Linked DNA regions of Homo sapiens: all the other regions are linked to region 1. Evidence: fine-mapped expression QTL. A gene starts in region 1. Each other region holds a variant in brackets. All regions are shown on one strand. Distances are between the middles of the regions. Region 1 holds the start of SORCS3 (sortilin related VPS10 domain containing receptor 3). Region 2 overlaps LOC105378464 (a long non-coding RNA gene). Region 3 overlaps SORCS3 (sortilin related VPS10 domain containing receptor 3).

Evidence for each region. PIP is the estimated chance that this variant, and not a neighbour inherited with it, causes the effect.
Region 2: its variant is fine-mapped to the expression of SORCS3 in whole blood (TOPMed, PIP above 0.99).
Region 3: its variant is fine-mapped to the expression of SORCS3 in whole blood (TOPMed, PIP 0.97).

What each region holds. Positions count from the first base shown.
Region 1 is chr10:104,635,668-104,646,027 of GRCh38, reverse strand. It overlaps SORCS3 (sortilin related VPS10 domain containing receptor 3), which reads right to left and starts at 4,738. Exons shown (of 27, transcript NM_014978.3): 1 at 4,074-4,738. The coding sequence starts at 4,700.
Region 2 is chr10:104,586,922-104,597,281 of GRCh38, reverse strand. LOC105378464 (a long non-coding RNA gene) reads right to left here. Exons shown (of 8, transcript XR_007062285.1): 3 at 2,447-2,566; 4 at 1,170-1,274. Among named protein-coding and RNA genes, the nearest start is that of SORCS3, 49 kb to the left of the region's middle. The variant A/G (reference allele first, on the strand shown) is at 6,147.
Region 3 is chr10:104,978,232-104,988,591 of GRCh38, reverse strand. All of the region lies in intron 4 of SORCS3 (sortilin related VPS10 domain containing receptor 3), which reads right to left. Among named protein-coding and RNA genes, the nearest start is that of SORCS3-AS1, 320 kb to the right of the region's middle. The variant C/A (reference allele first, on the strand shown) is at 4,978.

The sequences.
Region 1 (10,360 bases):
ACAATTTTTTTGGCAAAACCCTGAAGAATGGCTTCTGTGGCAAGCTTCTTTATTAAGCCTCCAAAAAGGCAGAATGCATTAAGATATTGTGACACAGGAACTGTGAGCAGGGAGGATGAAGACAAGCAATCCAGCCAAAAGCTATTTGAAAAATCTGTTTGGGAGCCACAATTAGATGATCCAGTGAGTGAAATACAATTAATCTGATCAAATCTGTCACTATTTTGCACATTAGGAGTAAATATTTTAGAACACAGTCCAGCTGAATTAGTTAAGGGTAGGAAATCCTGCCTGGGAGAATCTGTGTTACACCTACTAGTACGCTCAGGGCAGGGTGATCTGGGAGGGCCTAGAAATATCAGCATCTCCCCATTTCTCTTCACCAAGATGCAGTGTTGGGCCCATTAATTGAGAACTACCTGGCAAGTATTCCAAGCAGATACACTGCAGGGGCAGCAGCCTGCAAATCGCTGCCACTTCGAGTGCGCTGCTGGAAGGAAATGAAGACCAATGTGAGGGCAGATGCAGTGTTTTCACCTTGGCACCAGGAATGGGGGCCCCATGAAGGGTTAATCCAAGAAGGAGGGGGTGTGGAGAAGTGGACTGTGCCTTCACAACTTTCCACTCTCCAGAGCCATTTGCCAACTCACTGAGCAAGCAGGGAGGCTTCTTCTTTCATTTGAAGGAAAAGGACAGAATAATGTGTTTTTCTGTTTCCCTGTAAGCCACGGGGACTGGGCTCCCTCTGGGTGTTTTTGAAACACTCTCTAACCCATTAATCACCAGGATTCCAGCTGGAGGCAACTGGAGAGAAAAAATAGCAAATCGCTCCTCCAGAGTAAAGGGTCCAAGGCCAAGTCCACTCACTTTCCAGCCAGAGCACCTGGCAGGCAACATGGTCAAGAGGTGGTACCCAGATCCCATGCCCTCCTGATTCCTTTGCCCAAAGCCAGTTGCACTCCTTCTCCTTTGTCCCCAAAGCCATCTCTTCTCAGTCCTGGGACCAAGGCAAATACCCAGCCCAAGCCTTGGTCAAGGGTCTCCTCCTGCACCCTCAACCACCTGGGGCACACACTGGACCAATGGGGTGGGCTGAAGGCCCTTCTCCTTCATGTCCCACCCTGCATCCCTGACTGTAAACTCAGTCAGAATGGAGTTCAATTTTCAATTTCATAGGGTTACTGAAAACGCTCCCCAAAAGGGAACTCATATCAAGCAATCAGGTGCATCAGAGACACTTGGAAGAAGAGCAAGGAAACCCTCATTGTGTTAAAAATTAAACTGGTGGCCTCCTGAATAAGGACATGTCTAATACTCCAGAAGCCAGAATAAAAGATAAAATTCTCTTTCCACGTCATAAGAGCCTGGAGCTAGGCCCCATGTTCTCTGTTTTACGGACATCTCCCTCCACTTTGAAACCAATGATGAAGGAATCTTCCCAAAGTGTCCTCATCCCCATCACTCTTCACCCTGGCTTTTATTTACAACACCTTCTTTTCCTGCCATCAGGAAAGGGGGACAGGAGAAAAACCAGCTGGGTCAATGTTGCTGAAACTGGTTTCCCAGTGACTCTCCAGGAGATTTCCTTAAAGTCTCAAAGACAGGGCCATGTGAGTATGCTTCTCCATCTTCTTTACACAGGCTCACAGACCTGATAATCAAGGATCTCTCTCTCGTATTGCCTACAAAATGTGGTCAGAAGAGACAGGTCCAGCCTAGGGGCTAAAGAGGCAGTTATTCCCCAGATTGGAGAGAGAGGACAGTGCGTGGCCCTACATCCACCTGTGGTGCTCTTGCATGGGCAGTAAGGCTGGCCAAGAGCACAACCAATAAGTCCCTGTGGGCTGTTCATACATTGTCCAATCTCATTGCTGTCACCAAGGTCTCCAAGCCCAACTGCTCCAGTCCCCAAGCCCCTTTGGCCGTCATTTGACTGAAGAGTCATTTCCCCAGGGAGCACGGGCCAGACCTGCCCCTCACCTCTTCTGCTGCACAACTGCTTTGAAGATGAGCAAAGAAGGCCATGCACAGTTAACTGCTATTTGCAGGAAGCATTTTCTCTAAAGTCCCATCTTCAGAGGCTTTGTAAATACTCAAAAATAATCCTTAAAATAAAAGCAGAGACACAGAAAAACTCTTCAGGGAGGGTGAATTTATATTGTCCTAATGTGGCAGTAGGGAAGCCACAGATGTAAAGACATTGCATCCTCCTCTTCCTAGGATATATTTACTTCCACACATCCTATCCATCCATCCATCCTCCTCACCAAGTAAGAACCCCAACACACACACACACACACACACACACACACACACACCCTAATTATCAAACTAAAATGAAGTTGGGATTCACAACCCCTGCTGTCAGAGAATCAACCCTGAGGTCAGAGAATCTCCCCCCAGCACACACATATCCAAGTCCTCTTGGAAGGGACTTGGAAGTCTTCAATCACCCAGCCCTGCAAAGGCACACATTGTCCACCCCTCTCGCCAGAGCTGTCAGCCCGAGGCTACGGGGGTCTTCATCCCAGGCAGATGAAGCCCGCCATCGCGCTGCTGCGAAGCTGGACTTCACTGGTCCTTCAAGACCAGCATGGGCTACCCAGGCTGGGCTGCCCGCGCTGTGCATCATTAGAAACCAAGAAATCTGCACTTTGGTATTGCTTATGTACTACCTTCTGCGGACCCCTCGCTTTCCTCTTATTAGATACCCAATCCTGGACATCCCAGGCTCTGTTAAAATAAGGCAAAAATTTCCCAGAGAAATTTTGTCAAACACCGGTCATGAAGAGAAATACAAAACGGCAGGGAGTTGCGGGGTGAGTTCCTATCAAATCAGTTCCCCAAGGCTGCTTGTACAGACACCCGTCATCCTCCGCCTGGAGCGTGCACCCTACCCAACGCCAGGTTCTGATCTGAACCATGGAGCCAGAGAAGAGGAAAGGATTTTCCAAATCTGGCTCTAGTAGGGACCGCGGGAGGGAGGGAAGTCGGGGAGATGGTGGGAACCTGTCCCCCGCCTTTTCTTTGCTTGGCTGCACAGCGCTGGGTGCCGGCGAGGTAGGGGGAGCCCCTCCGGGCACGCGCTGCGGGCCGCTGCAGCTGCCAGGCAGGCGCGATGCTCAGTCGGGCGCCCAGTTCGGAATGCCGGAGTAGGCCAGACCGGGCTCAACGACGCCACCTCTCGGTACATCCTTGTCCAGGAGAACCCGGTGGCGGGGAAAAGCGGGTGGAGAGGTGTGCAGGAAGCTCAGGCACCCAACTCCGCTCAGGGAGCCGTTTGTGGCGCAGGACGCAATGGTGAAGTCGAGAGTTTTCTGCTGAGCGACTTCCGTGTGCCTGTGCGTGCGTGAGGGCGAGCGGTGTGGCATGAGCGCTGGATGGGTGTGGAATTTCGCTTCACGCTTTAAACTTTTTTTTACGGCCTCTGCTACGGCTTTCCAGGGCCGCTCCCTGGACTTTGAAGGAGGAACCGGGGTTACCTGAAGGCCAAGGCTGGGGGCCGACTTGGCCGAGCCTCCCTCTTGGGCTGGAGGACTGCGCGCCTGGAGCGGATAGCAGCGACCCCGAGGCGAGCAGGAGGCTGGGAGTCCGAATGGCCTTCCGGGTTCCCTTTCGCGTGACGGGAGGGGGGGTGGGGGTGGGGTGGGGGTAGGGGGAGCCCGGCAGCCGCAGGAATCGGTCTGTTCAGCGGCTCCCGCCCCAAGTCAGCCCTTTTTCTCATCCAAGAATTCAAGCACCCCGCAAACAGGAAAACTGACCCTCCAAGCCAAGTATTGGAGAAAGTGAGCACAGATCCCTCCCCCACTCATCTTTAAGAAGCCCCTTCCTCCACTCCCCTCCCGGCGGCCGAAGCCTAGGGTCTCCAGTAAACAAACACACACAGCGTCTAACAACAAACTCCGTTAACCTGTTGGGGGCGTGGGGGGAATCGGACAAACCTGTTATCTCGAAAAGTCGAGGCGTCCCCCGCCTCGACCCCCGAGCAACTATCTGTCCCTCGCTCCCACCCACCCCCCCATTCCCCTTCGGTGTCAGGAAACAGGCGGACCCGCCGCCGGGTGGGTACTCACGCTGCTGTTGTGTCCCGACCAGTGCACCATGGCTTGGTTGTGGGCCGAGTCCCCGGTCAGCGCGAAGGAGGTGCTGGGCAGCCGGAGGTCTTCAGCCGCCGACCCCCCAGCCCGCGGCGCCTTCACCTCCTCCCGGGAACCCTTAGCAAGGGGACGGCTTCCTCTGGAACCATCGGCCGGAGCAGTGGCCCAGGCGTCCCCGCGTTCCTGGGTGATTGGGGGCTGCGCCCGGCGACTCCTCCTCGCGCCGCCAAGCTTGGCAGGAGCTGGGATGCCCCGGCCCCGCCGCTCGCCTGCCGGTGATGTCCCTCCGGCTTCCACCTGCATCTCACCGCCTCTGCCGCCGCCCTGCTGGGGCAGCAGCTCTGGTCCGGCCCGGCGCCCCAGCACGGCGGCTCTCCGCGCCGACGCCAGCTCCTCCGGCCACTGGCTGGCCACTGCCCGCGGCGAGAGTGGAGACAACGCCGGTGGCCGCGAAGCCGGGGCCGCCGGGCGTCCGGGACCGCCTGTCGCGTCCCAAGTGATCTCGGCGCCGGCCAGGACCCACGTCGACAAGAGTAGGAGCCCCGTCCGGACAAGCGGCGCCCCCGGCCTGCCTGCGGGGCGCTCCGTGCGCGCCGCCTCCATCCCGCTGCGGCTACCGCGGCTCGGGCTGCCGAGTGTGTGGCGCCCGCCGAGGTGCGGGTCCGGCGCGGGGGGTGTGCGCGCGCCGGCGAGCGAGCGAGCGTGTGTGTGTAGGGGGAGTGGGGAGGGGGCGGCCGGGAAGGAGGTGGCTCCGGCTGGCGCGCCTCGCCGGTCCTCTCCACTCTTCCCTCCTAGCTCCCGCTCGCCCGTTCTCTTGTCCAGAGGGTGATTCCAAACCCGAGGAAAATTAATAATTGCCCCTTCGGTGCTTTCTTTCTTAAAATCAGATTCCCCCCAATCCTCCCCACTGAGCTCCTCCAGAAATTTGGTAAAAAGGAGTAATCAAAGGTAATAAGAAAATCTTCTTAAAATATGAAAATCAAGCCGGATCCAGGAGGGGCCGGCAATAGACCCCAATCCCGAGTCTCTCCGAAATCCAGCCTCCAACGTGCTCCCGGCGAAGAGTTGGGAGCCGCTTCTGGACGCGTTTGGGGGTTTACTCTTCGGGCCTGTTATGAGGGGCGGGAGATGGCGCGCGGGGAGGGTACAGGGGTCTCGGGGGAGAAGGAGGAGGAGTTGTGTGCTCAACGCCAACTGTTCGCGTTCTAGAGCCGAGAGGGAGCCAGGTGCCTCCGCGCGGGGAGGCTGCGCACGGAAGCCAAGCGCGGGATGCACCCTGGACTCTGCTCGCCGCTCCCTGGCCCGGCCGGCTCCCGGCCAAACCCCGCCACCCAAGGCCTGCGCCCCCGCGCGGGGGCGTGGGGAATGCGTGCGTGCGCGTGCGTGCGCGCAGGCAGGCGGGCGTGAGGCGAGGGGTTCGCAGGGGGCCGGCGGGCAGACCGGGCGCTGCCGCGTGGGGGCACCTGGCTGAGCCGGGCCGGGAGCGCGGCTGGGTGTGAGGGGGCGCGCGGTTCCGTGCGTGCGCGTTTGCACGAGCATGTGTGCACGTTAGTGTGAGCGATGGCAAGTGGGGCGGGGGCGGGAGGTGTGCGCTCGGCTTTTGGTCGCGTGCGGATCACGCACGGGCTGTGTTTGCATTTCCAGGAGCCTGCGAGTGGTCAAAGAGGCAATGCTGAGAACTAGGCAGGCCGCTCTCGGCAGCCCCCTCCTCTTGGCGCCCCGAGCACCCACGGCCCCCACTACAAGCGGTTAGAACCTGATAAAGCCTCCTAGGGGATGAGGGAAAAGAGGCGGAAGGCCCCGGTGGGATCGGGGACTTGCCAGATCTTCTCGGTTGAGGGATTCTCCTTGCCCCGACCTCCCGGCCAGAGGTGGGGCGAGAGAGTAGTCGAGATGTCTGTTCTTCCAGGGAGGATCCAGACCTCATTTTGCTGCCTAGGATTTTGAGGTCGTGCCCTCACTCTCCCCAGTCCGTTTCTGAACGGACTCAATTGTTTCAAAGTGTCGGCCGCCAGTTAAGAGGGTACTCAGGCGGGAGCCGCGTGGGCTTATCTGGTCCCCAATCCGCTACTGCAGGAGTGTAGCCTGCGCGCTTGGTGCAGCTGAGATCCTTCGTGACCGTAGGAAGAAGGAGACTTCAGGTGGGCTGAAGGGAAATGAGCTAAACCCACAGACGACCTCGAGCTGCGGTTTACAGGCCCCAGGACATGTGGTGTAGCTCGCCGCCTCCGAGAAGCCCCTGGGATTCTAGGGGTTGAAAAGTCTGAGACTAGAGGAGCTAGAGGAGGAGCTATTAAGAAAGGAGGAGGCAGGAGGGAGGAGGCTTAGGGAGAGAGAGACAGCCTCCAGCCCTGCTCCTCCCCTTCGGGAGTAGATAGAGTTCCTCCTCTCTAGAAGATGGTTAAAGTGGAGCGAGAGGGAGGGGAATGCGCGGAGAGGAAAGAAAGGTGAGAGGAAGGAATGAAGGAGAAAATAGAGGGAAAAGGGGAGAGAGGAAAGACAAGATGAAGGAGAAAAGGGGCGAGAGAATGGTGCAAAAGGAAGAGGGAGATAGAAGAGGAGGCGAAAGGGCGCCAGGTAAGAGCCAAGAGGGATGGAGGAGGCAGAAGAGGCGACTGAGAATCTAAGCTGGCCAAGGAAGAAGACATCCAGCGATTCCCGAGAGCCCCCGCCCTCTTGAACTTGCCTTTCCACCCGGTGCCAAAATGGCAATTAGCAGCGGGGGAGGCTGGGCCAAAGAACCAAGCCAGCGACAACGTCCGGCCCAGAATGGTGCGGGTCCTGGCATCTGTGGGTTTCCAAAGACAGGGAGTAGCGGGTATTCCTAAGAAAAGTTCCAGCGCCGCAGGCCCAGGTGGGCGCGGGATCGGGCGCTGGACGAGAGCCGGCCATCCGCGAGTTCCCAGCGCCCCTGCCGGAGGAGGCCCGGCGCTGCAGCCCGAGCCGAAGCTCGGGGTTCGGGAGGGACGCGGTGCTGCTCTTCTCTTCAGGCTCTGGGCGGAGGTGCCACAGTATAAGAGATCTGGGCGGACCCGAGGCTCACACAGCCCGGAGGAGTGTGGTCTCCCAAGTCCTATGCGCACTGGGGAGGTGCACCATCCAGTCCCCGCAGCTTCCCGCGGCCTCTGAGCAGGAGCAGTCGGGTGCAAAAGAGGCAGACGCTCTGAGAGGGGCCTCCTTCTGTCTCTCCTGTCTGAAGAAGGCCCTACCAGATGGAACCCGGGCAGAGTTGGATCCTTGGGATGGGCTTGAGGAGATGTAGCTTAAAAGCTTTTGTTTGAAAACAAACAAAAAAGGAAAGACTCCCGCAAGTGTGACATTTTCACATGCCTCCTGCACCAGTTCGTTTTCTTGGCCTTGCTCCCATCAATTACAGTCTTCTTCCACCTGCAGCCTCTCCCTCCTTCACCCTTTGCCTGAAAATCCTTGCCCTCAGCCCTGAGCTGCCCCTGCCCCCACCCCCAGCCCCCTGCCTCCAACCCCCTGCTTCCGAGTCCCCATTAGCCTTCTCTAGTGCCCAAACTTCTCCCAGTAGTTCTCACCTGAACCCACAGTATCCTCTTCCTCACTCCTGGACTTTTTGCAATTTGACATCTGCTTTTAGGCGACTCAGTCAAAGGCCTACCCCAACACGCCTGACAGCCTCACTCAACAACCTCTTCTTCCCGCATGTGTAAACTTGTCCCATCTGAAAAGGTCTCCTTTGATCTACATGGTACTAGGATCTTCTGGGTCCTCCCTGGCCAGCCTCAGTCAAGCTTGTCCTCTTTTATCCACATCTTAAATTCTGAGCCCCAGCCTCCATCATTTTCCCCAATTCTCCGTGCTTGGCTCTCATTCTGTTTTCCCTTTCTCCTTGTCTGAATGAGCCCGGAGATCAGGCCCATTTCTGTCCTTCTACTACCATTTCCTGGTGTTGACTCCTGGATCTACAACTTCACCACATCCCCTCTTGAGCTTCACACCTGACTTCCTCATTGCTTCATACGTGTTATGTGTTCACCTTGAAACCCATATGCAGCAAAACCTAAAACCATCACCCCAACATCTTCTTAGTCACCTAGACTAGACACTTGACTTGCAAGCTTGACTCCCTCTTTTGGATCCCCACACCCATAACTTGTCTCGTCCTATTTTAAAAAGCCTTTTTTTTTTTTTTTACCACTCCTCTCCTGTTCATTCCTAGAGTCACTGCCTTATATCTGACCCTCAACATCTCTTGCCTAAGGTTTTGCAATAGTTTCCTCTCTTCTCCTGGTCTTCGGTTCTTTCCTTCTCCTAGCCAGCCTCCACACTGGCACCTTCAAATAGAAATGTAATGTAAGCCACACAGGAAATTTTAAACTTTCTAGTAGCTTTATTGAAATAAAAAGGAACCAATGAAATTAACTTTAATTTTTATTGAACTGAAGATACCAAAAATAGTTTCAATTTGTAATCAACATAAAAATTATTGATGTATTTTTACATATTTTTGTACCAAGTCTTCAAAATCCAGTGTGTATTTTATACTTACAGCACATTTCCGTTCAGACCACCCACATTTTTTCACTACCACATTTCATAACCACATGTGACTAGTGGCTACTGTTTTAAACAACACAGCTCCACACTGTTGACAGAAATAGCCTCTTAAAACATAAGGAAGATTATATCATGAATTGCCCTCCTCAAAATTTTTCAATGACCTACCATTTTTATAAAATCCAAACTTCTTAGAATGGTATCCAAAGCTCCATGTACTTGCCCCACCTCCATGAACTTTCTTACTGTATTCCTTAAGCCTGGAATGTGTCCTCTGCCACAGTATTCAACATGGAAGGGGCTTCATGGTAAGAACCCTTCTTCATGGAAGAATCCTCTTCCATGGAGCTTGCCTCCACAGCCTCATAGTACTTGTTATTATATCATTATTATTACCATCATCATGTCATCATCATCAAATTCTTTGTCTTCCTATAAGATAGGAGCTGTCCCATATCAATTTGGAATTTAAAAGAAAGGACAAAGGTTAAAGGGGGCTTCCATTTCCCTTGCTGACATAATACCTACTTCAGCTGGGAAAGGCAGGTTGAGAGTGAGGATTAGCTCTCACACAGTCCCCATAGGGTCGGCAACAAATGCCCACTGGGAATGCATTTTCTCACCAGGGCTTCTGTCCCTGTTAAAAACAACTGGAGAAAGCAAACTGTATACTGTAAGTTATCCATGAGATTACACTAAATGTCACCCAAATAAGTCTTCTTTCCGGTTTTTTGTTTTGTTTTGTTTTTTGTTTCTTGTTTTTTACCATCACAGTGAAATAACACTTTGGGAAACTGTGCTTCTTCTCCCTGACATCACAAATACACACAGACACATACACACACACACACACACACACACACACACACACACCCTTACCCTTCCAGACCCTCAATAATCTAATAGATATTTTGCCATCAGCACTCACAGCAGGCACAGATAGGGAAGCATTCAAATGATGCCGATTTCTTTTCTTTTTCTTTTTTTTTTTTTTTTTTTTTTGAGATGGAGTCTTGCTCTGTCGCCCACGCTGGAGTGCAGTGGTGCGATCTCGGCTTACTGCAACTTCTGCCTCCCAGGTTCAATTGATTCTCCTGCCTCAGACTCCTGAGGCAGCTGGGATTACAGGCACACGCCACTATGCCCAGCTAATTTTTGTTTTTTTGTTTTTTGTTTTTTTTTAGTAAAGGCGGGATTTCCCCATGTTGGCCAGGCTGGTCTCAAACTCCTGATCTCAGATAATCCGACCCCCTCGGCCTCCCAAAGTGCTGGGATTACAGGCGTGAGCCACCATGCCCAGCCCTATTTCCGTATTTTATAAAATGTTCAGCACCTCTTACATGAGGACCTAAAAGCAAATTTCTCTTAAAACGTGTATTTCTCCTGTGAAACTGACATCCTTTCTTAAAGGCTCTTTTAACTGGCTCTGTCTTCTCACTTTGTCTTCCTCTTGTCTCAATAATCACGCTGAGTACCGAGTTAACTTGTTCTAATGGTCTTCAGTCAAGATTTTTATCCTCTGCTCCCTTTTTACTAAATGCTGTTTTTATTGTTTGATACTCTTTGATCTTACTATATCTGCGTATTTTTGATAAGCCACTTCACATTCTTTTTAGAACTAAATAGGAAATTAATTAATTGATTAACATCAAACAACAGTCTACATTGTAACTCTGAATTTCTAAGGAGGCAAATGATTATGAAACAAAACCTGAAATGCAGACAAAGCCAGCCAGATG
Region 2 (10,360 bases), 49 kb after region 1:
GGCGCAATCTCAGCTCACTGCAACCTCCACCTCCCAGGTTCAAGCAGTACCCCTCCTTCAGCCTCCCAAGTAGCTGGGATCACAGGCATGCACCACCACACTTGGCTAATTTTTTTGTATTTTAAATAGAGACAGGATTTCGCCATGGTTGGCCAGGCTGGTCTCAAACTCCTGACTTCAGGTGATCCACCCACCTCGGTCTCCAAAAATGCTGGGATTACAGGAGTGAGCCACAGCACCTGGCTGGCAAATTATTTTTACTTAATATTTTTAAGGGCACAAGTCATGCTGTTTTTATACCAAGCTAGTTTTGCTATCTATAGGCAACGTGATTTCTACAAAAATGAAAACATGTAGCAGAGAAACCACTGATGCCCCTGGCTTCTACACTGCAGAATGTCAAGACTGAATGCAGGCCTGAACAAGCCATTCTTGTTGTGCTAGAAGCCTTGGCAATGAGGGGAGGGTCTTAGAGTTCATTTTAGTGCCCGTCCCCATTGATTGCCCTATCTCATGTTCAAAGGTCAGGCCAATCCAGATCAGGAACTGTGATTTGGCCTCAGCCCCCAGTTCTGTCCAAGGAGGGTACTTGAAGGTACAGCAGTAGAAGTCCAGTTCCTGGAGCCCTGGAGGTTCTTTAACCTTCAGAGCACACTGTTTATAACCAAATATCCCTAAGGGAGATAAGACCTTAATCCAGGGGTGATAAATAGGTTTCATCTAAAGTACCAACTTTGATCAATTCAGTAATGTCTTCCTGGAGCCTTGTACTGAGAAAGATTCTTAAACTGTTCCCCAGAGTGATATTCAAAAAGGTTAACAATCCACCAATCAGCACAAATGGCCAGCTGCAGTGCTGGCCAACCCTGCCCTGCCCAACCCTCACCCTCACCCCAACCCTTCTGGGATCTTCCAGGTGCCCTGCTGGTTTGGGTGTTAACTCTTTAGTTGCTGGGTCAGCATAGGGAGGTCCAAAAGGAGCCCTCCAGGCCACAGCTGTTTACCAGCTGATGCAGAAATGGTTCGATGTCTGAACCATCTGATTCTAAGCTCAATATCAGCTACAGCTGTCTCTCAATCCATAGGAAGTGCCAGCGGTGAATTAGTAGTGTCAGCCTTTGAGGGGGGAGGGGAAGAGAGTGCAGCATCATGTTGAATATGTATTTTACCTTTTAAAGAATCCATGTTTTTCTCAGTGGATCATGGGACTAGAAACTATTGTGTTGGCATTGCGAATTTTGACTGGACACAAATAGAGAGTTGAGAGGATGAACCTGAAACATATTCATTATCATTAAAACTTAGTAAAGAATCATATGTCTGAAAAAAATTTAAATTTGCGAAATCAAGCCTAAGGAAATTGAACTTAAAAACATCATTATGGAAAAAAAAACAACCTGAGTGATGACTGAATTCTACCAAAAATTTGAGGAACTAATCCTTTCAAACTCTTCCAAAAAAAACTGGTTATATGGAATAGAATTTCTCATAATGAAAATGGAAATGAAAACCAAAATGATTGAATTTTTTTTAAGAGACAGGGTCTTGTTCTGTCACCCAAGCTGGAGTGCAGTGGCACAATCATAGCTCACTGTAGCCTCCAACTTCTGGGCTCAAGCAATCCTTCTACCTCAGCCTTCTGAGTAGCTGGGACTACAGGCTAATGCCACTGTACCCAGCTAATTTTTAAAACTTTTTGTAGTCATGGGGTCTCAATATGTTTCCCAGGCTGGTCTCAAACTCCTGGCCTCAAGAGATTCTCCCATCTCAGCCTCCCAAAGTGCTGAGATTGCAGGCATGAGCCACCAGGTCCAGCTTCGGCTGGAAATTTTTAGGTGCATCAGATAAAAAATGATCAAAGAATTAAATTTACTTATTAGAATTTACCCTATAAAATCATCTTAACAAAAAAATTAATGTTTTTATTATTCTAATACAAATAATTTTATTTACAGACCTGAAATCAAAATGTACTTGGGGGTCAAAATAGCAAGGAACAAGCTTTCAAAAAGTCAAACTGGGCTAGGATTTGTCAATGTTTCCTATCATTTTGAGCAGTACCCTGGGTCCTCTCTCACAATTAGGACTTGTGTCACAGTCACAACATAAACCATGTGGCAATTGCTGGGGTGCAGGCGTAGGGCATGCCCCCTACATTCCTCCAGCAACAATATGCTGTCACATCTTCCGGGGGAACCCCAATTTAGAATCACCATTGAATTGATACACTGTTCTTGCGAGTGCATGATTTTCCCACTAGAGCAGGAAAAACTGTTTAAGAAACTGTGCTTTAAATATTGAGCCCTTCCCTTATCTCCTTGTGTGCCTCTCCCCTACCCTCTCTACCCTGAGTGATTAAACACCTGTGCCCTGTTCCCCACCTGCTCCCTCACTAGTCTGCTCCATCACTGTCTCTCATCGGACCACTCTGCAATAACATACTCACCAGGCCTCCTGTTTCCACTCACCCTCTTTACAATCATTCTTCAATCTGTAGCTGGAGAGATCCCTCAAAAACCTAAGTCAAATCATGTTGTTCCTCTTCTTAGAGCCATTCAACGGTTCCCTATTGCATGTAGAATTAAGCATAAAATATAAAATCCTTATTCTGGTTTATGAAGCGTTTCACAATCTTACCCCTGCCTACTGTACCAGATATATTTTGTACCCTCTCCTGCCTTTCTCCCCTCTTCTCCTGCGTTTCTTTCATTCCTGTAAATTCCCACTGTAGATCCTCAGCACTGGCAGTTTCCTCTACCTGAAGCATTCTTTCCCTGATCGTGCCCTGTTTGGCTTCTTCTTGACTTTCAGGTCATAGCTTCTCAGTCTTCTGAGAGATCTTTTCTGACCATTACCCCCAAACCGAAGAAACCACAGTTACTATTTCATCCTGCTTTAATTCTCTTCATAGCATTACACCACTTTTTTAATCTGTTTAATATTTGTCATATCCTTCATTACAATGTTAAGCTCTCTAAGAGTAGGGACTAATTTGATCTTGTTCACCATATGTAAGCACCCAATATATATTCATGAATAGGTAGATAATGAATGAATGAATGAATGAGCAAATGAACATAGGTAGTACCTTAAAGACTGCTGAAATTTTAGGAGCCAGTGCTGGGACTATCAAAGAGAAAAGAAGATAAGCTGACTCTTCCTTCTCTCAACCTAAGATGCTGCTCAAATTTGGCCTTTCCCTCAGGAAGCTTACGCTACCCACAGAGGCCTCACGTCACTGCTTCTATAGAAGTAATACACATTTGCAGGTAACCGTTTTCTCCACGGTGATATCACTGATGCCACCGTACTGTATTATCTTCCACATTGTTTTGCTCTGCCTCTTCATCTGGTTTCAATCTTCCCAACAAGAGTAATCTCCTTGCAGGCTTGAACTATATCTTTTGTGACCTTCAGTTCCTAATAGGCACCCAGTAAGTGTTTTATAAACCATATAAGTTCAGGCTTGGGGGTAATCTTAAAGATCACTTTCTTGCAATTCCCATTGTGGTGATAAAAGAGAGCAGAGACCTAGAGACTGAAGTGACTTTCCCAAGGTTATGTGGCCAGCTAGAAACAGGACTGGTCCTCAAACTTGGGTTTCCTGTTCCCAGGCCAGTGTTCTTTCTACTGTGTCAGTGGAGACCTTGTTAGAAATGCAGATTTCTAGGCACTCCTCTCAGATCTTCTTTAGGGACCCGGAATCAGGTACCCAAAGTAACTGTGGTGATTGTGACTCCAGGGACCCAAAGATGACACTGCTTCTGTGCAGGTTGAATCGTATGAAACACCTGACAGTTTTTGACCTCCAAAACCACAATTTCATGTTCGATGTAATAATATTCTCTTGGGTATAAAGCACTAAGTATGAAAGAGGAAGAGACCCAGGGAAGAGATGATGGCTCTCCAAAAAAAAATTAAAATCTGAACAGAAGGATAATCAATGGATGCCTAAGTGGAAATTTCATGAAGACAGAGAGAGCTTCCTTTTCTGGACCAAAGCTGCCCTGAGGTGCCAGGGAGGTTTTGGGGTGTAACCAGCCATAGCTTTGTCCTCAACCCTGAAAAGGTTATAGCAATAATAATCGTGTTTAAAGTTGGTATTTTTTGAGAGGTTGCGCTTTCCAAAGACCACTTTAGGCACAGGTATTAACTCGTCCTTAGAGCAATCCTATTATTATTGCTCTCACTTTACAGTTAAGGGAACTGAGACAGGGAGAGGCTAAGGAACTAGCCCAGGGTTAGGGTTAGGAAGTGGTGGAGACTATTTCTGCACCCACTACACTATTTTGAAGATGTTCCAGGGAAAATTGGATGACATTTGGCAAGGACTTTGGAAAGTCATCTCCTGCATGAAGTGAACAGTTGAATAAAAGACCTCCAAAGAAACTTCCAATCCTGGTGTTTTAGGAGTCTAGGATTCTGAGAAAGGGGCTCCAGTAGAGGAATGCTTCACCACAGTGTCTTTTTACCCAAGCACTCTCCTCCCTGCCTTCTTCCTACCTGCCTTTCGTTCAGGCACACAGTGTTCTTGGGTGGACTTACAGGGGTTGATCTAGAAATGAGGGGTTATGAATTCCCATTTATTCTACAGCTAATACTGTGCTAGGCACTACTGTACCCACATAAGGCATCATGTGTATATACTCCTCCTAACACCTCTGAAGTGGGTACATGCCCTCATTTTACAGACAAGGAGACTAAGACATAAGAGAGGGCCCTGGCCTTAGCTCGTCAGTGACAGAGCCAGGATCGGGAACATGGGTCTGTTTCCAGAAGCCTTTGCTCTTTCAGCAAAACCACAGAATGCCTAGGAAGGTGGCTGCAGAAAAGAGCTGTCTCTTCCCTGTTCTTCTCCAGTGGGGTCTGAGAGCCCAGTGGAGCTAAAGGCAAGGAACGGAGTTTTTAAATTCTTTGTTCAGGCTGCTGCAAAAGGCAGGTACCTTCCACACCCTCAGCCCCTATATCAGCTAAGCCCACAATCAGATGAACTTATCCCTGGATGTTTCAACATACTATGACCTATCAGAAGGCATGCGGTGGGATAAACCATGTGTCTTCTCCAACTTTAATTGATCAACAAACCTGGAAAATCACAAGAGTCTGTCCAGACAGTCCAACAACAAATAAAAGGAAGATCAAGATGTGCATTAAACATTTAAAATCGGGACCTAGCCCAGCCCTCCCGAACTGTTCTTCTCTTCAGGTGGGATTAATAGAGCATTTGCTGAGCCGTCAGCTCCCCTTGCCACTGAGTGAGAACCACTTCCCTGCAAGGCCCAGGGAGCAGGCACCTCTCCAGCATCCTAGCTCTGGTTCCTGCCACAGCAGGGACAGATGCTGTTTCCTTTACTTCCCTTATAATGATATCATTTACCTTGTGGGTTCCTTTGGCTGGTTTTTGTTTTATATGCTACAGGAGTTCTGAATTAGCCTCTCTCCTCTACCATCTGCTGATGAGAATGACGACATTTGTGAAAAGCAGCTACAGAGCCTCTTTTCCCTCTTTACTTAAAACCAATGAGAAGGAGATCTGGGACCTGGGCTCCAGACCAGACTCACTGCTTCTCCACCATGGGGCACCAGGGCCAACTAGCATCTGGGATTTTACTATTAGATAAGAAAAGATACCACAGTTCTGAGGCCAACTCCACTCACTGGCTCCAGCTCCTGAGTCCCCTCTCCGGCTGAGCTCTGTCTGATAAGGCCATGGCCACCCCATTCCCCCTTTCAAATGTCTGCAGAGCAAGGGGCCTGGCACCATAAGCTTGGCATTTTCCCAAGGACAGTGAGGGTGGCGGCCTGGATGGTATTGACAGGCCCAATATTTTAGCCATGTTTTCCAGATTGTGTTTTTCAGAATATTCATTAACAGATGTTCAGTTTAAGTGTCCCTTGATCAAATAAAATTAAACAATTCCACTCATAGTTGTTTACCCAAGGGAAATGAAAATACACAGCCACACAAGCACTTGTACACAAATACTCATAGTGGTTTTATTCTTGATCACCTAAAACTGGAAACCACTCAGACTTGGGGAGTGGATTCACAGTGACACATCCGTGCAGTGAAATACTACTTGGCAATAAAAAGGAAGAAACTATTGATAAACACAACACAGCTCAACCTCAGAAAACATCATGCT[A/G]AGGAAAGAAACCAGAGACACAAAAGACAACTTACTGGATGACTCCAATTGTTGTGAAATTCTAGAAAAGGCTCAACTCTAGTTATAGAAGACACAGATCAGTGGCTGCCAGGGGTTGCACGTTGAGGAAGAGAATTGACTATGAAGGGTCATGAGGGAGTTTTTGAGCTGATAGAAATGTCCTAGACCTCAACTGTCATGTTGGTTACCTGAGTGTGTACATCAAAACTGATTAGACTGCACCATTAAAATGAGCAAGTTTTATTGTATGTAAACCATACCTCAATAAGACTTATTTCTTAAAAATCCAACAGGTTAAAACTCACAGGACCTCCTAGAGCCTTTAATATGACATTACGCATTTTATTTATTTAATTATTCATTTATATTTATTTTGAGACAGAGTCTCACTCTATTGCCCAGGCTGGAGTGCAGTGGCATGAGATTGGCTCACTGCAACCTCCACCTCCCAGGTTCAAGCGATTCTCATGCTTCAGCCTCCCAAGTAGGTGGGACTACAGGCATCTACCACATCCAGCTAGTTTTTGTATTTTTAGTAGAGACAGGGTTTCTCCATGTTGGCCAGGATTGTCTCGAACTCCTGACTTCAAGTGATCTGCCTGCTTCAGCCTCCCAAAGTGCTGGGATTACAGGCATGAGCCACCATGCTTGGCCAACATTGTGCATTTTAAATCTTTGAGGAGGAGCTATAACATCCAAGATTTCCCAAATTCACTTGACAAAGAATTTAATAAAAGAATTTTAGAAAACACCTGTTACACTCTTGGGGAAACAAGTAAAAACATGCATTAGAGAATTGCCAATTTGGATAAAGCAATGCCCTCTTCATTGTTTCCTTTAAAATTCAAGTAGCCTTAATACAGGAGCACATTCAGCCTGACACCTTCATAGGAACTTGTTTAGGAGGCAATTTCTTGCGGATCGGAGGTCCAGGTGTTAGCAGGAGCACACTGGGTGAGGAAGAGGGTACTGGGAAGGGAAGGGGGAGCCAGAACCTGACTGGGCTCCCTGCAAGCTGTGGTTACCCATCCTGAGAGGCAGTCCATCAGATGCCAGGGAAATGAGTCAGAGATGAGTATTGTCCCTGCCCTCCAGGAGCTCAAAGCCTCACTTACTCTTGTCAGGAGCCGTTCGGTCCCAGGATTCCATTGCCCATGCTGTTGTCCATGATTTTTCTCTCTGGCTTCTCATTGCCTCTTCCTAGGAGAAAGGAATGATTCTCTGGCTCTTGGGTCCTGTACACTCCTGCAGACCTCCAGCCAAAGTGGTCACCAGCTCTAACTGGCAGGCTGTCCCCAGGCTCACTGATCACCAGAAGGGATCCAGCACTGGCCTGGGGAGTTGTGGTGGGTGGCAGCAAAGGAAGACAGTCTTCTACCTCATTTCTTCTCAAACCATATCCAAATCCAAATTCTCCCTACTGCTGGAGAGGCCTGCCCTGTGGCTCTGAGTCATGAGAAAACCAGACATAAGCGAGCATCACAGGGACAGCTGGAAGGAACATGCCAGCTTTATCAAGTGGACAAAGCCCTGTCCAGCCAGCTCTGCTCCTGCTGCCGCCTGTCTCCCTCCTCCCTCTCTCATGTCTCCCTGACATGGCCCGCTGGCCCCTGTCCAGAAACAGCTGTCTCCAGGGAGGCAGAAGGCACCTCCAAGATTGGGACCGCTAAACTGTCTAATTCCAGAAACTGAGCTCTTAATTGCTGCACTATACTCTTAAGTTCCATCCTCCCCCTCACTGAGGAAGGAGGCAGACCCAGGAGTATAAGAGACTCTCCTGACCTCTTTCTATATTCCATGCACCTTGCCATCATCCAGCCACAAAAGATCCCTAAGCTTCCGAGGCTTAGAAACAAAAGTACACAGGAGACTGGGCCAGAAGCAGTAACACTGACTGCCCTCCATCTCTAGCTCCCCTGATTTCTCAAGGGATGTGGTTAGAGAGGGCAAACAGAGCCCCAGGACATTCTCTGAAACACACCAGGTTGAAGGGAACTTTGTCCGGCTGCCCATCACTTTCTACACCTGCCTCTGGGTGAGAGATTGGGCCCACCTCCCTCTATGGGAGCCCACACAGTCACACTCACTTCCCTCGGCTCTGTGGCTGCCAGGCCTTGGACCACGACCTAGGCCCACAGTGAGATGTATCCATCCCAGACCTCACACATGAGCCGGGAACAAAAAGAATCAGGAATGGCAGAGGGTTTGGCGGCAGGAGCAGCCTCTAGTTTCCAGGGTGGCGGTGCCTCCAGGGTTAGCGAGGAGAAACTATGGTGTCCTGCGCTCAGCAGTACACAGTGATGTCCTCACCAGCCTGGTTCTGTGACATTGGCCGCAACTGACCTCCTAGTTTTCCTAGATCCTGGTAGCTTTCTGAGACTGGTTCTAGAGCCTCCTTACAATTCTTTCTCTAATATGCTTTAAATCAATTTCATTGCTACTGAGAATGCTGACTCCCATCACATGCAATACCCTTTGCCTCTAAATTAGCAGTTGTCAAAGTTTTTGGTCTCAAGACCCCTTTACACTCTTGTTTTTTTGAGACATAATCTGGCTGTGTTGCCCAAGCTGGAGTGCAGTGGCGCAATCTCACTGCAACCTCCATCTCCTGGTTTCAAGTGATCCTCCTGCCTCAGCCTCCTGAGTAGCTGGGATTACAGGCACCCACCATCACGACTGGCTAATTTTTGGTTTTTTAGTAGAGACGGTGTTTCACCATGTTGGCCAGGCTAGTTTCAAACTCCTGACCTCAGGTGATCCACCTGCCTTGGCCTCCCAAAGTGCTGGGATCACAGCCATGAGCTACTGTGCCCAGCCCCCTTTACACTCTTAAAAATTAAGAACCTCAAAGAATTTTGTGTGGATTATATCTATTGATATTTACCATATTTGAAATTAAAACCAAAGCATTTAAAAAAGACACTAATTCATTAAAAACAATAAATGTATTGTACCTTAACATAAACGTGTAACATGTTAATATAAATTAGGTGTTTTTTTAAAAAATAACTATATTTTCAAAAATTTAAAAAACTAGTGAATTGAGCGGCATTGTTTTGCTTATTTGCAAATCTCTATATTGGCTGGCTTAATAGAAGTCAATTGGAGTCATATGTCTGCTTCTCCATTCAATCTGTTTTGATTTCACACATTGTGTAGACTTTGGATAACTCCACTGTTCACTCATGACAGAGATTTTAAAAAGACAAGTGTTTTAGCTTTATGATAAAAATAACCCATGTGAGTTTCCAGAACACACTTTAAGAATCACTACTTGAAACCTTCCAAACTAATTTAAAGGACTGACAAGCCTGCTAAAGATCAGGGCTAAGCTTGTTGAGGAGTCAAATGGCCATGGCACTTTACTGCTGATGAGAAAGTGGGAATACCAGCATCAAGCAGAAGCAATCACACCCCATCCCAACCAGTTAGTTCCAGGAGGACAGCGCACCAATTCTGTTTTGTTCACTGCTCTATCCGCAGAGCCTGGAACCCCTGGTAGGCACTCAATAAGTATGTGTCGAACAAATCGTTGAAATAAATGCATCAATGTATATGTGTGTGTGTGTGTGTGTGTGTGTGTGTGTGTGTGCGCGCGCGCGCGCGCGCGCGCGCATATATAAAGATTCTATCAAAAAAAATTTAATAGAAAGATAAAAGGAAAGTACAGAGACCTTGAGTGAAAAACCACATCCTGGAACACCCAGCCTCCAGAATAGCAACCAGACAGGCGGCACCTTCACAGCCATTGCTGTACCTTGCTCATCTGTTACCCTTGCGACCCTCAGCTGCTCCCCCTTTGTTGGGTAAATGATCACAGAGTGAAGAAATGGCTTATTCTTCAAGCACCGCTCCTGTCACTTGTGACTATCAAGTGGTTGTAATCCTCAAAGCTATAGAATTTGTGAAGAGGCCAAGAAATTATCTAGTTATTTCCAATTTCTTTCTTCACCACAGAACCATTATTTCAAATGGAACCCTTACACCACCCACTGCAGGAGAAAGTGAGGTCTTGCCCCAGATGAGGCAGGAAGGGAAGACCAGAGCTGGATGGAATCCGCCTCCTCCTCATCTTCCCCCTCTCCCCACTAGGCTCAGCCCCATCCCAGGAGCCACTAGCAGCCACAGCCCACCCCAGACACATCCAGGAGGCACACATCCGTGGCAGCCCCTGCTTCCAGGTGGGCTAAGGC
Region 3 (10,360 bases), 340 kb before region 1:
CTTGGTTTAATCTATATATTAACTCAAAGATTTGAATAAATTAATGGGAAAAGCGAACAAAACTGGACAAAATCCCCTTAAAACACAACTGCCTTGTTGTTGTTTATTTTTTGCTTGAGGCAGAATTAATTAGTCCTATGTCTTATCATCAGCAAGCAGTCTGATGGCTTCTACCCTCAAAGTCCCACTCCAGAAACTGCCACCAGCTGAGAAATATGCCATAAGAACCACTGGATTCATTTGAAGGTTTGGTTTCCACATGGCTGATTTTGTTGTCTTACTCTATTGTGCTCTCTGGAGCTGGGGTTCAGCGTAAAAGTGGCCCATATGCGGTTCTGTCTTAAGGCAAGGGAAAGCCCACCTATCAACCAGGAAGAGTGGGGTGTGGTGGCTGTACCTCAGCCAGGCCTAGGATAGAGAGCAGGCAGTCCCCTCACTGGCTGTGTGACCTTGAACAAGTTAGAATGCCCTTCAAGAGTCATATGCTCCTCTGTATCTTGGAAATAATATCTACCTGGCAGCTGCTTATGAAAATTCAACATAATCACATATATGAGAGAATTTGTCAGTGCCACACATGGGAAGGTGGTACTTCAGGACATGTATCTCTATTTCCAAGGAGCAGCTATACGTCCAACTCTGAGTAAAGTAACATGGGGCATGTAAGAGTTCCTAGGCTCAAAGCTCAATGCATTAGAATTGTCTACACCCCTTGGCTCCAGAATCATTTATTTCCATTACAGCTGTCAAAGCAAATAAGCAAATACTAATTCAATTTTGGGATGGAGCCGGAAAATTCATCTGAAAAACTACCAGAATAAATCACTTCCTTAACATCTACCTATGGTGGGTGCGTTCTGAATAATAAACCCTACATTTGTTGCTGAGTTGTAAATAATATAGATTGAGGTTACATCCAACAAGAGTACACTTTTTGTTAGGAGAAAAAAAAATATTCCTAGAATTTCAGAGTTCTAAAAGGACGACAGTGAAAAAAACGCTGAAGAAAAGAGAAATCTCAGGCTGCATATTTTAGTTCAGGGAAATTTTCTTCTACAACATACTCCTTCTTGAAAAGGGATTAAATAATGATTTGAAAGGGTTTTACTAAATCAGCCCCATTCACATCTAAAGCATTTTTTAAGAGCACTGCCTTATAACTAGGATAAACATAAACTAGTCATGGTATATTACTTAAAGAATTTTTAATTATGAAAGCAATGTAATGAAATAATAAAAAATTTGGAAAAGAAATGGTATGCAAAAAAAAGCCCCACAAACATAGTTCCATCATCTTAACGGACCTAGCTAGTATTTGGGAATATTTCCTTCCATTCTTTAAAATAATTTTTCTCCCTCATTCCTTTTTTCTCCCTTCCTACATTCATTCCTTCCTTCTTTCGTTCCGTCCTTCATTCCTTCCTTTCTTTACCTTACCTTATTTTTTGCATACTTGTATTTAAAAGTATGTCTTAATATATATTATGTACGCAGTTGTATATATTTATATATGTAATATGTAATGCGTACAGGCATACATCATTTCATTGTGCTTCACAGATATTGGGGTTTTTACAAATTTAAAGTTTGTGGCAACTACATCAAGCAAGTCTATCAGCACCATTTTTCCAAGAGTATGTGCCTACTTTGTGTTTCTACACCATATTTTTGGAATTCTCACAACATTGCAAACTTTTTCATTATTATTATATCTGTTATGATGATCTGTGATCAGTGTTCTTTGATGTTATCATTGTAATTGTTTTGTATAGGTGCACCACAAATTACACCTGTAGAAAATGGTTCACTTAATCCATAAATATGTGTGTCCTAATGCTCCATCTACTGACAATTCTCCTATCTCTCTCCCTGTCTTCAGGCACCCCTATTCCCTAAGACATAACAACATTCAAATCAGGCCAATTTATAGCCCTACAATGGCTTCTAAGTGTTCATGTGAAAGAGTTGCATGTTTCTCACTTTAAATCAAAAGCTAGGGATGATTAAGCTCAGTAAGGAAGGCACGTTGAAAGCCAGGAGGCTGAGAGTGAAGTCTCTTGCGCCAAACAGCCACATTGTGAATGCAAAGGAAAAGTTTTTGAAGGAAATTACAAGTCCTACTCCAGTGAACACACAAATGATAAGAAAATTAAACAGCCTTATTGCTGATATAAAGAAAGTTTTAGTGGTCTAGATACAAGATCAAATCACCCACAACATTCCATTAAGCTAAAGCCTAATCTGGAACAAAGCCCTCTCTTCAATTCTATGAAGGCTGAGAGAGGTGAAGAAGCTACAGAAGAAAAGTTTGAAGTAGCAGAAGCTGGTTCATGAGGTTGAAGGAAATAAGCCATCTCCATAACATACAAGTGAAAGGTAAAGCAGCAAGTGCTGATGGAGAAGTTGCAGCAAGTTATCCAGAAGATCTAGCTAAGATCATGGATGATGGCGGATACACAAAACAAGATTTTCAATGAGCAGCCTTCTATTGGAAGACAGTGTCATCTAGGACTTTCACAGCTAGAGAGGAGAAGTCAATGCCTGGCTTCAAAGCTTCAAAGGACGGAAGACTCACCCAGGCTAACGCTGCTGACGACTTTAAGTTGAAGTCAATGCTCACTTATGATTTGAAAAATCCTAGGGCCCTTAAAAATTATGCTAAATCTCCTCTGCCTGTGCTCTATAAATGGACCAGCAAAGCCTGCATGACAGCACATCTGTTTAAGTATAGTTTACTGAATATTTTAAGCCCACTGTTGAGACCTACTACTAAGAAAAAAAGATTCCTCCCAAACTATTACTGCTTATTAACAATGCACCTGGTCACTCAAGAGCTCTGATGGAGATTTACAAATAGATTGTTATTTTCATGACTGTTAACACAATATCCACTGTGCAGACCGTGGATCAAATAGAAATTTCAACTTTCAAGTCTTATTATTTTAAGAAATACATTTCATAAGACTATAGCTGCCATAGACAGTGATTTCTCTGATGGATCTGGGCAAAGTAAATTGAAAACCTCCTGGAAAGCATTCATCATTCTAGATGCCTTTAAGAACATTCATGGGAGGAGATCAAAATATCAACATGAACAGGAGCTTGAAAGAAGTTGATTCCAACTCTCATGGATGACTTTGAGAGGTTCAAGACTTCAGTGGGGGAAGTAACTGCAGACACAGTAGAAATAGCAAGAATAGTAGAATTATAAGTGGAGCCTGAAGAAGTGACTAAATTGCTGCAATATCATGATAAAACTTGAACAGATAAGGAGTTGCTACTTACAGATGAGCCAAGAAAGTGGTTTCTTGAGATGGAATCTACTCTTAGTAAAGATGCTGTAAACATTGTTGAAATGACAAGAAAGAATTTTAAATATTCCATAAACGTAGTTGATAAAGCAAGATTTATCAGGGTTGCAGGGCTGGAGAGGATTGACTCCAATTTTGAAAGAAGTTATACTGTGGGTAAAAAACTGTCAAACAGCATTGCATGTTACAGAAAAATCTTTCCTGAAACGAAGAGTTGTCAGTGCAGCAAACTTCACTGTTACCTCATTTTAAGAAATCACCACAGCCACCCCAGTCTTCAGCAACCACCACCCTTAGGAGTCATCTATAACAAGGTAAGATCCTCCAGCAGCAAAAAGATTATAATTTGCTTAAGGCTCAGATGATCATTAGCATTTTTTAGCAATAAGGTATTTTTAAGTTGAGATATGTACATTTTTTAGACGTAATGCAATTATACACTTAATAGACTACAGTATAGCATAAAAATAACTTTTATACGCATGGGGAAACCAAAAAGTTCACATGACTTGCTATATTGTGATATTTGCTTCATTTTAGTGGCCTGGAACTGAACCCACAATATCTCCAAGATACGCCTGTATGTATTTAATAGGTATTAATATATACCTATGTCGCTACATGGATATTATGGTCACTATTTTAATGGTTGCATAATACCCCAGTAAATGTATATACCATAATTTAAAGTCCCTTAATGTTAGGCAGTAAGTTTCTTCCTAGTTTTTCCCATTATAAATGACTTTGATAAGCATTGTTATGCCTAGAGCTTCTGAACTGAACCATTGGGTTAAAGTTATGAATATGTGTATGTTTTCTGATATATATTGCCAAGATATTTTCCAGGAAGGAAAATTCATTTGCACACCCATCAATACTATTTCAAAATATAATACCCGACACTGGGTATTATAATTATCGTACAGAAAGTGATACATTTTAAAAACTGAAACCTGTTAATTTTAAATGAAAATTTTTTCAAATTGTCCTTATGAATTTTCTTGATTAACTGGGATTACTGAATGTCAATAAATTCTTGTATTTGGTTTAGTCTAGTTCTCTAATATTAACATTTAAAGTATTTCTTCTTCTCTATTGTTTACCTCCCTTGCTACCTTCTAACATTTCTTTTGAGAAAACTTATTTTCTATCTGTTGCTTTCCTAGTTTGTCTGCATGAAATAAAAAATGACCTTGACGGAGAGTGGCTCCACTGAGGGTGGAAGGTAGTGGCTGAAAAAGCACGCAAGTAATTCTCAGATGCCAGTGGTGTTTCTTGATCAGGTTGCTGGTTTCATGAGTGTATTCAGTTAATGAAAATTCATCAGACTCATGAGATGTATGCTTTTCGGTATGTATGTTAAAATCCCATTTTTAAAATTGAAAGAATGACCCTGAGTTTAAAAGGCCAGGTGCCTTCATACCACAGTGAGTGGTCAAGATATAGGCAGAGAATGGAGGGAGCATAAGTGGCCTGGCCTGGTCGGGCAGACAAGAGCTTAAGGTCATAGGGACTTGCAAAGGAAGGGACAAGCAGAAGAATTCCTGAGTCCAACTGGAAAACGAGAAATCTAGGATCTGGATTCAAGCAAAGTAGTCAGCACTAGGGCAGTGTTATTAACAGAAAAAAACAGCACGTACATAAAGACAAGGTCAGCTCATAGAGG[C/A]AGCAGATGAAAGTACACAGGGAAACCTGAGGCTGCATTGCTCTACCTCCTGGAGCACCTGTGGCTGGAGCCACCTATCTTAACTAAAACACTGCCATGGCTGAATTTCTATCATGGGAACATAATTGCTTTGGGAAAGGTACTGTTGCCTGCCTGAGTACCCTTCTTAAAGCATATACATGCCGTATCTTCCATTTCAGCAAATGTGATTTTCCCTCTAATAAATGTATCAGGTTACTAAAATGGACACCAAGAAGGTGAAGAAGAGACCAGAAAGTCTAGGACATCATATAGAAAAAGCATGCTTGGGGCTGGGTGCGGTGCATGGTTCACACCTGTAAATTCAAATATTTTGGGAGGCCGAGGAGGGCAGATCACCTGAGGTCAAGAGCTTGAGACCAGCCTGACTAACATGGCAAAACCTCATCTCTACATAAAAATATAAAAATTAGCCGGGTCTGGTGGCAGGTGCCTGTAATCCCAGCTACTCAGGAGGCTTGAACCCAAGAATCGCTTGAATCGAGGAGATGGAGGTTGCAGTGAACCAATATTGCATCACTTTACTCCAGCATGGGTAACAGAGCAAGACTCCATTTCAAAAAATTAAAAAAGAAAAGAAAAAGCATGCTTGGGGTGACACAGGCCACCAGAGCCACATTTTGCTAAAGGTTGTTCATTCGAATGAATGTTCTTGAAAACAACACTGACATGAATGGAGATCCTTACTGCCCTTCTCTCACTGAATACAAGTTCATAGCTAACATTAAACCAGTTCTGTCATTCAGAACTCTGCTCAAATAGATCAGTGGTAACATTCAAATATCACAGGGTATCTCTGATTATGGGCCACACCCATTAGGTGGTTGCTCTACCTCCTGGTGTTTCTATGGTGATGAAGATAGCACACCTCCATTGTACTAATGAGACACCTGTAAGAGCAGTGGCCACTTGCTGTAGGTGAGCAGAGCTAGAGATATTTCTCTTAAATTATATATAAATCATTTTTATAAGAATGGAAAAGGACCTAATAAAAATGCAATGTTTTTCTTTAAGTGAAAAGTGCCCTTCAGTCCCACTCATATTCCTCAGAGGAAAAGCTTCAAAGCCATGGTCATCCCTAGTTAATCCCCAGAAGCTTTATCTCCACCAGGTGAGGAGACAGGAAGCCTGTTTCTGCCAATAGCTACTGAGAAACTTATCATCGCCTACTAATCCTGGAGGATCTCAACAAAATTACATTTTTAATCTGAGGGTTTTAAATGAGAATATAAATGAAAGTCACAGTTTCTTTGGATCCAGCATTCCAGAAGTCAAGTTTACATTTCCTTTTGAATTTTTAGGCCCTCTGAAATCCAGATACACTCCAGCACCTGCCCCAGTTACAGTCCAATTGGCAAAGCCTGCGTGGGACAAGCACCTCCTCTGTACTGGGTCCTGTGTTGCCAGCTACCACGCCTAACACTGCATCAGCTGCTTAACCAGTCTGTCAATCCGTCAGCTACTATTGATCTTGTCGGATAGGAGGTGATCAACAAAAATCCTTAGCTGCATGCCCACTCCCCAACTATTAATACTATAACAGCAACCCTTCATTATGTGTGCTAGCATTTCAGAAAGTGCTTTTTACATCAAAATTATGGGCAATTCTAGACCACTGTGGCCCAGAAGTGTCTGAAAACAATGGAGTCTGCAATCCCATTGAGCTCATCTCTGATCTCCAAACCCAGCTGTATCTGTTAAAGTTTCATTTTGCCAAGAATATAAACGGTATTAGAGAGCTTTGCAATCCTACCTCTCACGCAGAAAAAAAATAGCTATTTTCAGCTCTCCATCTCCTACGGAAGGCCCCCTGTGCCAGGATGTATGCATCTGTGAATACATGAGCATGTGCCCATTTTTTTAAAAACTGCAGTCTCTTGTCAAAATGAGGAATGTTTAAACATTCAGCTCTGTACAGCAATGAGAACAGCAGCTATATTTCTAGGATTGCACTGTCTTCAAAACCTATCTCAAAATCTTTCCAAAAGTCTCAGTTTTAATAAGATTATTGAGCCCTCCAGCTAATCTAAACACATCACAGTGTAAGCTGTTTCAGTCATCAGTGAGGAAATAGCCTGATGGAAACAAAAGAGAATCCTACCACTTAAATAACTGACAAAGACACAGCCCTCAAAAGAAGTTATAGAGCTTTTGTTCTAAGATGGAGGGAGGAGAGTAGCTTTTCTTTTGTCATTTCCAATTTGGTCAACCATAACCTATTACTTCCACTGCTTTTTTAAACTTCAGGAATTCTTATAAAATATCTACAAAGATACCCAAGAATGAATCTCTTGTCTTTACTGAGTCCTTTTAAATTAAAATGCAAGATGGCAGGAGAATCTATAGGCCAGAGAAGGAGCTGGCATGGGAGGTAGAAGGAGTGGGGAAGCTCATAAGATGGTCAGAAGAGAAGGAATTGATCAAATGCCCAAATTAAGCTGACCAGAAATCAGAAAGGACTTTAGTAGACTGGGGTGCATCAGGATTGCAGAGGTATGACCCTCCAGCAAGGTCAAATGGAAGGTACATCTGCCCCCCACCCCTTTGCAGCTTTGGAGGACTCAGAAGATCTTCCCCACACCCAGGCCTTGGCCGGTATCAGGTAGACATGTTTCCCAGTTAACTCACAACCCAACAGCCACATATCACTAGCAGAGTGTGATGTGCATCTCTCGATTTCTAGATGCAATTTTGTTTTATCCACAAGGTATTTCTTTAATTCTCCAGCAGTGCCTTTACTGAGTGAGATCTACTGGCAAGTCTTCTGTAGCTTTGGGGTAGCATTTGGGAAAGTAAAGCAATTGGATACTGTCCTTTTAAAATATCATTCAATTAGGTCTTTTGTAATACATACAACATAACGAGATAGCCTTACCAACTCTAAAGAAATTTCTAGTGCATTTCATCAAAGGCACAATAATGGAAACATCGATTCACTCCTCACCACAAACATCTCCCTTTGATGCTGCAGTTACCTTAATACTAGCACTTTTCATTTTCTCTAGAAGGAAACAGCTGCCTTCATGCATGCACATCAGAGAAGGCTCTAGTCTGAAATAACACATTTGTATATCAATCTCAACTACACTTGCATTTTCATTTGCTGCTGCACAGCATCACTCTCCTTGACTCTAAACTACTAAATTACCCCCAAAATAAAGAAAAACTCTTCTGCAACCTGGATGACTGGGGCTAGGTGTTTTATGCCATCTCTGCAAGTGTTGCCAGGGGCATCATCTGCTTTCACACATCATTTATTTAAAAGAAGAACGGCCAAGCACTGGTTAGAAACTTTATGGGCCTGAAGAACATTCAGCCACTTTACGCAAAAGATGTCAACAAGAAAGAGTACCTAAGGAATAATATATCTAGAAATGTGCAGTGTGATTAGAAAAATCCATCAACACCCACTGCCACATTTTCAAATATTTTTAGCAAGTGAAAGAGCAGCCACCAAGTCTGAAAGTATTTTGAATGCATTATATCCATAAGGGTACTTCATGAGCAATGCCCCAGATGTTCTCAGTGCTGTGGAGATGGAGGCAAAGGATACTCTTAGATACACAGGAGACATATTGCATTTGGTTTATCAACCTCTTGGTATGAGTAGTCTGTTGCCTCTAACCCAGCTTGCCTCTATAGAAATAAAAATAAGCTTTAAGAGGTCTGAGCTTCTTATAAATAAATTACCATCCAACCATTTAATGACATCTGAATAATTTACTTTTTTCAATACTGTTTCAAAATTTCTGGCTATACTAAGCCTCTAAAGTCACAGACTATCTGACATTTGGCTAAGTCTTTCATACAATATCCACTTGATGCCATGAAAGAAATATATTTGCAGTGGCTTTTCCTCTGCAAATGTCATGTGGGTGTCCTTAGGGGATGGCATTAAGCACCTGGCACCCACCATGAGGCTTGGTTAACGAGACATAGAAAGGTTATGTTGAAATTATTGTTTAAAGGTGCTGACATCACATGATCGCATGCACACACACACACACACAAACACAAATTCACAATCACATATTCAAATATACACTGAGGAGCAACTGTTTCAGTATTTAAGAGAGCAGAGTGAAGAAGCTATTTCAACCAAGGTTGTTCTGTGGATATCTCTATGTAAGACAGTGCTCAGAATTATCTGTTTCCTTTCACTGATTGATTCCACAACATTATTACATAATAGTTTGGCATCAAGCACTGTAGTACGATTCTGGAGATGTCAGGAAATACAAAGAGGAAATCATCTAAAATGTCTTTTCTTAAGTATAAGTTGATCAAATATAGAGAACTACAGAATTTAAGCATTCATCCACTAATTCATTCATCTAACGGATAGACACTGAGGACTGATTACAAGATAGAGCTTGTAATCTAGTGAGGAATGCAGATGACCCCAAAAATCAACACAAAATCTCATTTGTGACAAGTGTTCTGAATGAGGGATACATAGTGCTACGAAAAAGAACATCAAAAGGGATTTGATTTCATCAGGGAGTTTACGGAAGGTGTCCTGAGGAAGTGATGCTGGATCTGAGATCTGACGATGATGAGACTTACATTAAAGAAGAGAATTCCAGGCACAGGGAAGGGAGCAAGGGGCAGAGGTAGGGCAAGCAACTGAAAGATTCAAGGGGAAGTGATAACAGTGAACCAGGAGAGAGAAGGAGGGACCAGATCAGGCAGGGGCTGGTAATATCTACTGGGGACTGTGGTCTTTAGTTTGTGAACAAAGAGGAAATGTGAGAAGGGTTTAAGCAAAGGCACACAATCATTATATTTGGGAAATATTTTTTCAGGTTGTAGTATTAACATACTGGAAGAGACTCTAGCAATCGTTCAGATGACAAACAAAACTTATATTTGAGTAGTGGTGGTAACAGAAAGAAGAGGATGGAATCAAAAGATATTTAGAAGTGGTAACAGAAAGAAGTGGATGGAATAAAAAGGTATTAGATCCCATGATTGATCACAGATGGTGGGTTTAGAACAAGGAAATATTAAAGATACTCCCTAGGTTTCTAATTTTGCAATTAAATGGCTAGAGATAGGGAATACTGGAAGAGAGCCAGCTATGCTGGGGCGAGATCTCCAGTTCATTTCTAGAATACATTGAGTTGAGAGGTTTTGAGGCATACAAGAGACAGACAATGCTATGTATGCAGCTGAATATACGTATTTGGAGCTCAAGAAGGAGGTCTTATTGGGGTCACTAGATCTTTAATGTATTTTTAGAAAATAACAAAATGGACTTTGTTTGAAGCTTCCCTTCTATAACTCAACTAAGAGCAATGGTATATTCCAATGTCACCAAATCAAGGTGGCATAGTGTGATGGA